Linked DNA regions of Homo sapiens: region 1 is linked to region 2. Evidence: fine-mapped expression QTL. A gene starts in region 2. The other region holds a variant in brackets. All regions are shown on one strand. Distances are from middle to middle. Region 1 has its middle 43 kb from the start of LINC01728. Region 2 holds the start of TOX2 (TOX high mobility group box family member 2).

The links. PIP is the estimated chance that this variant, and not a neighbour inherited with it, causes the effect.
Region 1: its variant is the best candidate, but not a certain one, in a credible set for the expression of TOX2 in vagina (GTEx, PIP 0.56).

Annotation. Positions count from the first base shown.
Region 1 is chr20:43,848,846-43,854,223 of GRCh38, reverse strand. No RefSeq gene overlaps it. Among named protein-coding and RNA genes, the nearest start is that of LINC01728, 43 kb to the left of the region's middle. The variant C/T (reference allele first, on the strand shown) is at 2,033.
Region 2 is chr20:43,911,564-43,916,941 of GRCh38, reverse strand. TOX2 (TOX high mobility group box family member 2) reads right to left here and starts at 2,090. Exons shown (of 9, transcript NM_001098797.2): 1 at 1,952-2,090. The coding sequence starts at 2,050. RefSeq lists silencers at 610-659, 720-779, 1,850-1,939, 1,990-2,099, 2,120-2,219 and 1 more and enhancers at 918-1,635, 1,636-2,353.

The DNA.
Region 1 (5,378 bases), 63 kb after region 2:
ATAATGCAGGAAGTGGGCTGGTGAAGGCACTAGTCAGTGGCAAGGACACAGGGCTGGAGGTGGGGGGTCATGCCAAAGTGTGAGGCCCATGGGCCTCATGGCCGAGGAGGCTGGCTGGGGCGGTGGTGTCGGGGGGGGCTTTGTGGAGGTGTGTGGGCTGACAGTCACAGCAGCCGCAGATGCAGGACGGTGAGAGGATGTTGCGATGGTGGAAGATAGGTTATATGAAACAAATAAGCAAAGCAATTGAATAAATTAGTACATATATTGGGGATAATGAGAGCCAAGATTCTCATTGCCTAAGATATTTACAAATGTAAAAGGAGAAGGCTAGAAATAACCTTGAGGTATTGGATTGGATTTGGAGGTTTTGGTATAAACTCATGATTCGTGTGTGTGTGCGTGTGTGTGTGTATGTACATATATATATAGAGAGAGAGACACACATGCAAATAATTTTTAGTTGAATAAGCAGGAGTATGTGTGTACACACATGTGCATGCACGCACACACACATATACCTACATCCCAGGTGTAATGAGTACACTGAGTGCCCAGATCTTGGTTGTAAATATCACCCTTCACTGAAATGAATCAGGGCTACTCCAAGAAATGACTAATGCCAAGGCTGAGGCAGAAAATGCATGATGACGAGATGAACCTAGAATATCTCATTATGCCAGAAAGTAAGGAAATGGTGAATGAAAGATGAAGTCATAGCAAAAGGACATGGCAGCCACTGTGTTCTTGAAGGGGTCCCTGCCATCTGGGAAAAGACTTGGTTTTTTCAACAGAGTCTGGCTCTGTCACCCAGGTTGGAGTGCAGTGGTGTGATCTTGGCTCACTGCAGCCTCCACCTCCTGAGCTTAAATGATCCTCCCCACGTCGGCCCCCAAAGTAGCTAGGACTACAGGGGCACACCACCACGCCCGGCTGACTTTTGCATTTTTTTTTAGAAACAGCATTTCGTCCTGTTGCCCAGGCTGGTCTCGAACTCCTGAGCTCAAAGGATCTGCCTGCCTCGGCCTCCCAAAGTGCTGGAATTACAGGTATAAGCCACTGTGCCTGGATTTTTATTTTATTTTTTGAGACAGGGTCTTATTCCGTTGCCCAGGCTGGAGACAAGATTCTGATCGTCAAACTAGGTAATGATAGAAATGAATTATAAAATAGAAATCCATGAGCTCCTGCTGATATAAATACACCCGTACATACAAAAAGGAAAAGGAAAAGACTTTTTTTACAATAGAATATCAACTCATAGGTATAGAAGGAATGATGAGAATACAAAAATTACCATTTGGCCAATATCACAAAGGTGACTGATCCAGAAGTCATCCATGAAGGGGGTTTAACAAGGAACAGAAAATATTGGCATCATCTCAGAAACTTCCCCACAACATACCAATCAATTACAAAAGGGAAATGGTGAGTTTATGGTGGGGAAACCTAAGGCCGGGCACAGTAGCTCACACCTGTAATCCCAGCACTCTAGGAGGCCGAGGCGAGCAGAACACTTGAGGTCAGGAGTTCGAGATCAGCTTGGCCAACATGGTGAAACACCATCTACTAAAAATACAAAAAACTAGCTGGGCCTGGTGGCGGGCGCCTGTAATCCCACCTACTTGGGAGGCTGAGGCAGGAGAATCGCTTGAACCCGGGAGATGGAGATCGCAGTAAGCTGAGATTGCGCCATTGCACTCCAGCCTGGGCAACAAGAGCTAAACTCCGTCTCAAAAATAAATAAAATAAAATAAAATAAAAATACGCTGGGGAAACCTGGCAGGCACCAAGATGACCTGGTGGTCGAGATTAACACCTCCAGAGGTGGTCACCGTCTTGTGCCTCCTGAGATGATACACTGAAATAATGCAGCAGCATCCTGCGGCCTCCTTGCCCAGGAACATGGGCTGAGTGTGGACACAAGGAAACTTCAGATGGATCTGAGTTGAGTATCACCCTAGAGAATGGAGCCCTTTAAAACCATTGAGGAGGCCGGGCGCGGTGGCTCACGCCTGTAATCCCAGCACTT[C/T]GGGAGGCCGAGGCGGGTGGATCATGAGGTCAGGAGATCGAGACCATCCTGGCTAACAAGGTGAAACCCCGTCTCTACTAAAAATACAAAAAATTAGCCGGGCGCGGTGGCGGGCGCCTGTAGTCCCAGCTACTCGGGAGGCTGAGGCAGGAGAATGGCGTGAACCCGGGAAGCGGAGCTTGCAGTGAGCCGAGATTGCGCCACTGCAGTCCGCAGTCCGGCCTGGGCAACAGAGCGAGACTCCGTCTCAAAAAAAAAAAAAAAAAAAAAAAAACCATTGAGGATTCAAAAGACAGGGCAAAATGAGAAACTGTTCCAGCTTGTAGGAAACTGAAAATGCACAAGAACTAAATGCAATACATGTTCTTGGAGAAGGTTCTGGACCAGAGGGGAAAAGACAAATTGTTGGGACGCTTGAATGGGGTCCATGGATTGGGTGGTGGTGTTTGTACTGATGTTGATTTCTTGATTTGGAGGGTTGCATTGGGGTTAGGTAGAGAATGAACTTGGTCTGGTGAAATACACACGACTGTGTTTAAAGATGATGGAATACTATGTGTGCAGCTTGCCCTCCAAAGATTCAGAAAGAGAATAATGGAAGGAGAGAGAGACAGAGAGACAGAGAGAGAGAGAGCACACGCACAAGCCAGAATGTGATAAAATGTTAAGAATTTGATGATCTTGGTGAGGGCTATATGGTAGTACTATGTATTGTTCTAGCAATTTTTCCACAAGCTTGAAATTGTTCAAAGTATATTATCTTTTGAAATATTCAAAAGAATAAAAATCCAATTAGAAATGTTACTAGAAAGAATTATAGAAGCACCTTTGGCATATTTGAAATAGGCCTCATTTTTGTTGAATAAAGTGCATTCACATCCACTAAATAAATAAACACTCAGTGTTGGTGAGGGAACAGATAAAAAAGATTCTGTGGTGATAGGTTTGTAATTTGGTACAATCTAAATAGGCCTTTCTTTGAGTCTAAAAAATGCATAAAGAAGCATACAAAGATATATATGTTTTAAGGATGTTTGGGGCAGAACAGGTTTGAAAAATTGGAAACAACCCATGTACCTGTGAGTGGTCATTGAAAAATTCAGTCACGTCCCTACAACTTAGCTCTCAGGAGCCCTGCAACAATGAAGTATTGTTTAATGAACATACAAAGGTGTTCACAATTTATTTTTTGAAAAACAAATTTATGTATTTATTAATTTGGTCACTAGCTCAGCAAATATTTGTTGAATCCTATTATGTATGAATTGTTGGGTAAGGCGCATTGATTTAAAAAGATTTATAAAGTACTGTATTTCCTTTTCTGAAACTCCAATTTCTAATTGAGGAGACAGACATATCAACAAATAATATTTATGATATCTTCAGTGAAAAGTACAAGTTGAGACCAGGCGCAGTGGCTCCCGCCTGTAATCCCAGCACTTTGGGAGGCCGAGGCGGGTGGATCGCCTGAGGTCAGGAGTTTGAGACCAGCCTGGCCAACATGGTGACACCCCGTCTCTACCAAAAGTACACATATTAGCCAGGTGTGATGGCAGGTGCCTGTAGTCCCAGCTACTTGGGAGGCTGAGGCAGGAGAATCGCTTGAACCCAGGAGGTAGAGGCTGCAGTGAGCCGAGCACTCGAGCCTGGGTGACAGAGCAAGACTCCATCTCAAAAAAAAAAAAAAAAAAAAAAAAAAAAAAAGTGCAAGTTGTAGAACAATTTTCACAGAATGCCATTTGGAAAAAGAAATTATATGAACGGTAATGTGTGTGAGTACAGGCATGGAGACGAAAAGCACAGTGGATCGAATACATTATTAGCGGTTCTCTCTGGGAATGAGTTAAAATGGGGAAAATTTTACTTTCTGTAGTATTTTGAAATTTTTACAATGAGCATGTATTGCTTGTATAATCTGGGGTGATACAAGCAATAAAAATATCTATGACTAGGGAGAAATAACGTCATGTTGCCTGAACACAAAACAAGGAAAAGATGGGTCTTTGTCTCTAACACGGAGATGCAGCTCTGCCCTGGGAGCGATGGGCCTAAATTATTATTAATTGCAGTTGTAGGCCTCAGCACTTTGCCATGTCTGCAATTTTAGAAAGTAAACAAACATCTTGTTCTCAAGATAATCCTGAACTGTTTATATTTGGTCTTCCTGAGAAAGGACGTTTTGTGACTCACCAGGGCCGCAGGGAGGAAGGGCAGGCCCTTCCCAGATCTCAGGTTTGCCTGCTGCGGGAGGCCTGCCCTGGGGATCAGCTCCTGTTGCGCCCCTAGTTTTAGCCATGGAAGGGCCTCTGGTCATGAGCACTTCACCCTGGGGTCCGAGCCCCGTCCTGTTCACCCCTAACCCCATGAATGACAGGGGATCCTCACGGAGGGAGTTGGTAATCTTGGGAGGTGGAAAAAATATTACATCTGTCTCTTCAGCACCACTGCCCTGAAAGTTAGCATTTCCTTCCCTTGCGAATGTCAACAACAAACCACAGTTGTATTAGTGGTGTTCTTGGCTTTGTCACCAAAAGAAATATAGATATTTTCATATCGCATTACAGTCATTGCTACTATCTCCATAGATCGTTTACACCCAGTACCACTTCAAAGTTAAGATGCTAATTAGACCTGTCCCTAGCGCTTGTTATTTAGTGCATTAATGAAGAAGTACATTTATTACTATATCAAAAGTGTTTTTAATATTTTGATAACCATGTTTCAACATAATTGGAATCCTTTGTAATCTAATATATTTTTATTTTGTGCATTTAAAAGATGTGCTCAGAGAAGAGGCCCATGGCTCAGAAAGGTCAGGAGTGTTTGATCATGAGGATTGCAAAGGGTTGAGAGTCCCAGGAGGCCTAAGGGATGGCTCCCAAACCCCGCGAATGGCCAGCCTTTCACAACTCCATACTGCTGGAAAAACCCAAGTTTTGGCCAGGCACAGTGGCTCACACCTGTAATCCCAGCACTTTGGGAGGCTGAGGCAGGCGAGTCACCTGAGGTCAGGAGCTCGAGACCAGCCTGGCCAACATGGTGAAACGCTGTCTGTACTAAAAATACAAAAATTAGCCAGGCATGGTGGCGCACACCTGTAATCCCAGCTACTCAGGAGGCTGAGGCAGGAGCATCGCTTGAACCCGGGAGGAGGAGGTTGCAGTAAGCCGAGATCATACCATTGCACTCCAACCTGGGAGACAGAGTGAGACTCCATCTCAAAAAAAAAGAGAAAGAAAACCCAAGTTTTCACTTTCTCCAAAGAAATGCTGGAGCTGGGCATGGTGGCTCATGCCTGTAATCCCAGCACTTTGGGAGGCCGAGGTGAGTGGATCACTTGAGGTCA
Region 2 (5,378 bases):
CGCACAGGTTCTGGTGCTGAGTCAGAGGTTTACAGAGCATCAGAATAAAGCAGGGGCCTCGGCTGAGTCCTGCCTCCAAAGGCCCCTATTTGGGACAGCCCCACCCTGGCGAGATTTATAGAAACACCACCCTCAAACGGAGCGCTCCAGGCTAAACCCCCACCCACTCAGACTTTGAGGCACAAATGCCCAGCCCACCCACACCCGCAAACCAGAGGCTGGTACCTACCTCGCCAACTTCACATTTTGAAAAATAACAAAGCCAAGGGCAGAAGACAGACCAGCTGCCCCCACACCCAACCTTCTCCTCCCTGAAAACTCCACTTGCTACTTTTAATCTATTTTCCTCCATCAGACTGGAGGCAGCTCCCGGCCTTCTCCTGAGGCTACCATCCCCCCTCATCGGCTTCTAACTTTGCAGGTCACTGGACAAAAGAGAACCACCGCCACTCTTCGCGAGACCTCACTTGTCGCCCACCACCGCCCCACATCGCGCAGGCCCTAGTGGCCTGGATGCTTGCTGCCCCTGGCGAACTGCAGGGAGGCTTTGCCAGAAGCCGCTCCCCTGGGGCCTGAGGGCGCACTCAGGGAGGCCCAGCCCGGGAGGCCCCGGGATCCGCGCCGGGACGCCTCTCTCCTGCCTCATCCCCACTACCAGGGGCCTGACGAAAAGCCTGCGAGGTTGGGGAGAGACCCTGGGGGGCGCCGATCCAGCCACTGGACGCGCACTCACCCCGCATCGCCACGGAGCCCACGCGTCTGCGCCAGGGCTGCGGGAAACCCACGCGCGCTGTTCAATCCGGGCTCCGAGTGACGAAAACCCGCGCTTGGCTCCAGCCGGCCCGGGACCGACGCACCGACTGGCGGACGCGCGGACAGTCTGGCTTCCTAACTAAGTTTGAAAGTTCCCTCTCCGGCGACCGAAGGGGACGCGGACTGCTTAGAGGCACCCAACCCATCCAGGCTGGGCCAGACCCGGCAGTGGGACCTGACGCCTCGGGTTCGGGGTTCCAGGCACGCAAGCCTCCATCACTGGGAATGCGCCCGGCGCAGCGCAGCTGGGACCTGGCTGGGGTGGGGGGATAGATCCTGGAAACATGGAGGAGGGAGGGTGTCCGGCACTACAGCCCCAGCCTGGAGGGACGCCGGCTCACCGCTCCCGGGAGGACACAGGCCTCGATTGGCCGCAGCCTACTCGGAATCCGAGGCCCCGCCAGGCAGTGACGGCCAATTAGTAAACTGCCCAATTAGTGTGCTGCGGCGCTGAGAAGTTAAACCTCGACGCGCGAGTGTGGATGACCGAGGTGTGGCCGTCCCTGGGTGTGACCGCGTGTGACTGTGTGGCCGTCAGGACGATCTGTGTCTGAGGCTCACCGTCCAGGGGGGTGGCTGTGTGTGACAGCGTGCGCCTGGGTGAGGCGTTGTGGCTGCGAGAGTGTGACTGTCGGGCGACTTCTTTGTGTGACTGTCCCCCGTTGTGCCTGGGTGTGACAGCGGGTGGGGGCATGTCACGGTGTGTGGGGCATCGGAGCGTCTGTGGGTGACTCGTCTGTGGCGGTGAGGCTGTTTGCGGGTGAGTGGTTGCGTGTCGTTGTGTATAAGTGACTGTCAGGGTGACTTGCGTGGGACGGCGGGACCGTGTAAGCAGTGCCTGGCCGCCTGCGTGTGGCTGTGGGTCACTGTGACGGCTTGTGAATGACTGCGAGGCTGTCAGGGGGACGCGAGTGAGGGGCCACTGTGTCGTCGCACGGGTGGCTGTCGGGATGACTTCTGCCCGCGATCCCAACAACTCAGGGCGTGAGCGTGGCCGCGAGGGGATCGATGTGAGCCGCCCGTGCCCGTCGGCGGGGCTGATGTGCGCGGCCCCGTGTGACCCCGGGAGCGCCTGAGTCCCGAGCTGCCAGGTGACTCCGGCCCCGCCCGCCGGGGACCCCCGCCCGCCCCCGCCTACCTTGCCGCCGTGGTAATAGTCCAGGTGCGCCAGGCCGGCCGGCTCGGCCCCGGGCCGCGCGCCCACCGCGGGCGCCGAGGGGTACAGGCGGACGTCCATGGCGGGCGCGGCGGCGGCGGCGGCGGCTCCCGCGGGCAGTGCCTGGGCGGGCGGCGGGTGGGAGCCAGTGTGCGAGCGGGACTGCGAGCGCGGGGGGCGGGCCGGGGGCGGTGCCCAGAGGAGCGCCCCGCCCCCGCCCCCGCCCCGCCCGCGCGCGCTATTGTTCCGGCCTCGGGCGCTGCCTAGGGCCGGGGGCCCGGGGGCCCGGGCCGGGGCGTGGAGGTCCTTCCTCCGGGCTGGGCCGCCGCCGGGTCCCCCGCCCGGCCCTGCATCCCTGAGGGGGGCGCGCCTGTCCAGACGGCGCTTTTCCGTCCCGCCTTTCGCCACCCACGGTGAGGAGAGAAGCCCGAACGGCACCCCTCCCCAGAAGTGGGACACTCCCTTGCCCTAAATATTTGAGGCGGCGCTAGTCCCCGCCCCGCGGCGTGGGTGCGGGGGGAAGAGGAAGGTGGTGACAGGACCACTTTGGAGATGGGTGCTGCCTTACCTGGGGGGACGCAGGCCAGCGCCGGAGGATGCTCTTAGCATGCCCGCCCCCTCCTCGTCTCACTGATCTGAGTCAGCTTGACAGCCCCCCCTGGAGATTGCCGCGCTTAAACTCTCACTCACATATGGGGAAACTGAGTCAAAAACTTGCAGCATCAGTAATGGAGCTCCAGGCGGGTGGGCTCCGTTGCCCCCAAAGGATCCAGAGCTGAAACCACTTGGAGAAGGCAGCAGGACCCCACCCCTTTTAATGATAGGGAGGGGAGGGCCGCAGGAATGCCTAGAGCCCGAAGCTCTGAAGAGGGGTCTAGGATCTGCCCACAGTCACGGTCTCTTGGAGTGAGGAAAGGAAGAAAATGAGATTGGAATGGGATGGCTCTGATGGTGGGTCAGAAAGGTGACTGTGAAATGGGGTTCCTCCCCAACCAAAAAAAAAAAAAAAACCCTCTAGTTCTTGATATCACTTGCTGGTTGCTAGACTGTTGCACCCCCATCCCCCTTTTCATGCAAGAATTGTCTACACTAGCAATCTCCCCTAGCAATCTCACTGCTCACTGACTGCTCCAGGTATGTCTGACTGGGAGAGGCCAGGAGGCGAAGTCAGCCAGAATGGCATTCTTGTGTGGCACCAGGATATAGGATGCCATTGGGAGAAAAGGACTTGAGCTTCCTGCCCACTCAGGAGCTAGCTTAGAACTTAGTTCTCAACTGCTGCTTGGGCTTTGCTGGTCCTGGCCTAGAACTAGGACCATAAGAAAGATGCATTAACAAAAGATAGGTGTGGGAAACAGGCATTCACTGAAGGCTTGGGAACAACAGAGGGAAATTATAGCTCAGAAAGGAAAGAACTTCCAAATAAATTTCAGCAGTCATTGTTTCTAGAAATACAATGCCACACCTCATCAGAAAAAAATTTCCATTGTCCTGTGTCCATTTTTTTCATCTGGATATCCAACTGACCAGCACTCTTTATTGAAAAGATCACCACCACCACCACCACCCCCCTACACACACACACATACTCTTCTGCAATGCTAACATTGTCGTAAATCAAGTAGTCGATATGTGCATAAGACTGTTCCTGAATTCTCTATTCTGTTCTGTTAGCCTATTTTTCTCTCCCTGTGCCATTATCACAATGTCTGGATTACTGTGGGCTTATAAGTCTAAATGTCCCATGAAATAAGCCTACCCATTTTGTTCTTTTAAGACTGCATTGGCTATTCTTGATGTTTACACTTTCACAGAAATTTTGGAATCAGCATACCTATTTATATATATACACACAAACACACTAACACAATCTTGCTGGGATTTCAATTGGTATCACTTTGAACCTTTAGATCAATTGGAATAAAATTAACATTTTCAATAGTAAAACTTCTTATCCATGAACATGGTATGTCCCTTCATTTATTTTGGGTTTTTAAAAAAGTTATCTCAGCAATGTTTTGTAGTTTTCTACGTGGAGACCTTGCACATCTTTTATTAAATTTAGCCCCGGGTGTTTTTTGTTGCTATTATGAATGGCTTCTTTATTTTATTTTCTGTTTGTTGTCAGTACAGGGTTGTTGTTTTACAACATGTCCACAAATTCTTTGACACCTTTCCCAAGAAGTAGAGTCTAACACTCTTCCCCTCGGGAAGGGATTAGTCTTAGCGAATGGGTTTTAACAAAAAGAATGTGACAGAAGTGAATCTATGTGACTTCTGAGGCTAGCTAGATCATAAAATTAATAGGGCTTCTACCTGGCTCCCTCTCTCAGGACTTTTGTCTTTGGAACACTAAGCCATCATATGAGAACTCTCTCTTAGGCTGCCATGCATTGAAGAAGCCCAAACTAACCCACACAGAAAAATCATATGCAGAGACCCTGATACTAAGTAAAGAGGGATTCCTAGCCAGTCCCCAGCTCTGCCAGCTCCTGCTGTTCCTGTTCCATCTGCTATCTGACTGTACCCACATGAAAAAGGCTGAACTGTGCAGATGAGCCCTTCTTGAATCCAAAATGCACAGAAACCATGAGAGATAATAAATGATTATTGTTATTTTAAGCCACAAAGTTTTGGAGTGATTTGTTACTTAGCAATATAGGTCTGAAACATAGTATAAATAGATTTTTAAATAATGCCCTTGTATCCAGCAACATTGCCAAACTCATTTATTAATTCTAGTAATTCATCTGTAGATTCTTTGGCTTTAAAAAAAAATTTCTATCTCATCTGTAAAAATGAGAGTTTTAGTTTTTTCTTTTCAATTCTTATAAGTTTTGTTTCTTTTTCTTGCCTTGTTGCACTGGCTAATATCACCAGTATAATTTTGGAAAGAAGTAATAGTAGCAGACACTCTTGCCCCATTCCTGATTTCCTGATCTCAGAAGGAAAGATATCAATAGTTCACCATTAGTTATAATGCTTGCTGTAGTTTTATTTTTGTTTCATTTTGCTTTGGTGTTTTTGTTTGTTTGTTTGTTTTTTGAGACAGAGTCTCACTCTGTCACCAGGCTGGAGTGCAGTGGTGTGATCTTGGCTCACTGCAAACTCCGACTCCCTGGTTCAAGCGATTCTCCTGCCTCAGCCTCCTGAGTAGCTGGGATTACGGGTGTGTGCCACCATGCCCAGCTAATTTTTGTATTTTTAGTAGAGACAGGGTTTTACCATGTTGGCCAGGATGGTCTTGATCTCCTGACCTTGTGATCCAGTTTTTTTTTGCAGACACCTCTGTTGCAGGTTGAAGAAATCAGTCTTCACAGAAATACTCTGGGTCAGGAAATAAGACTGCTGTGGCCATTTTACAGATGAGAAGAGTGAGACCCAGTGAGGAATGCACATCCTGACAGTT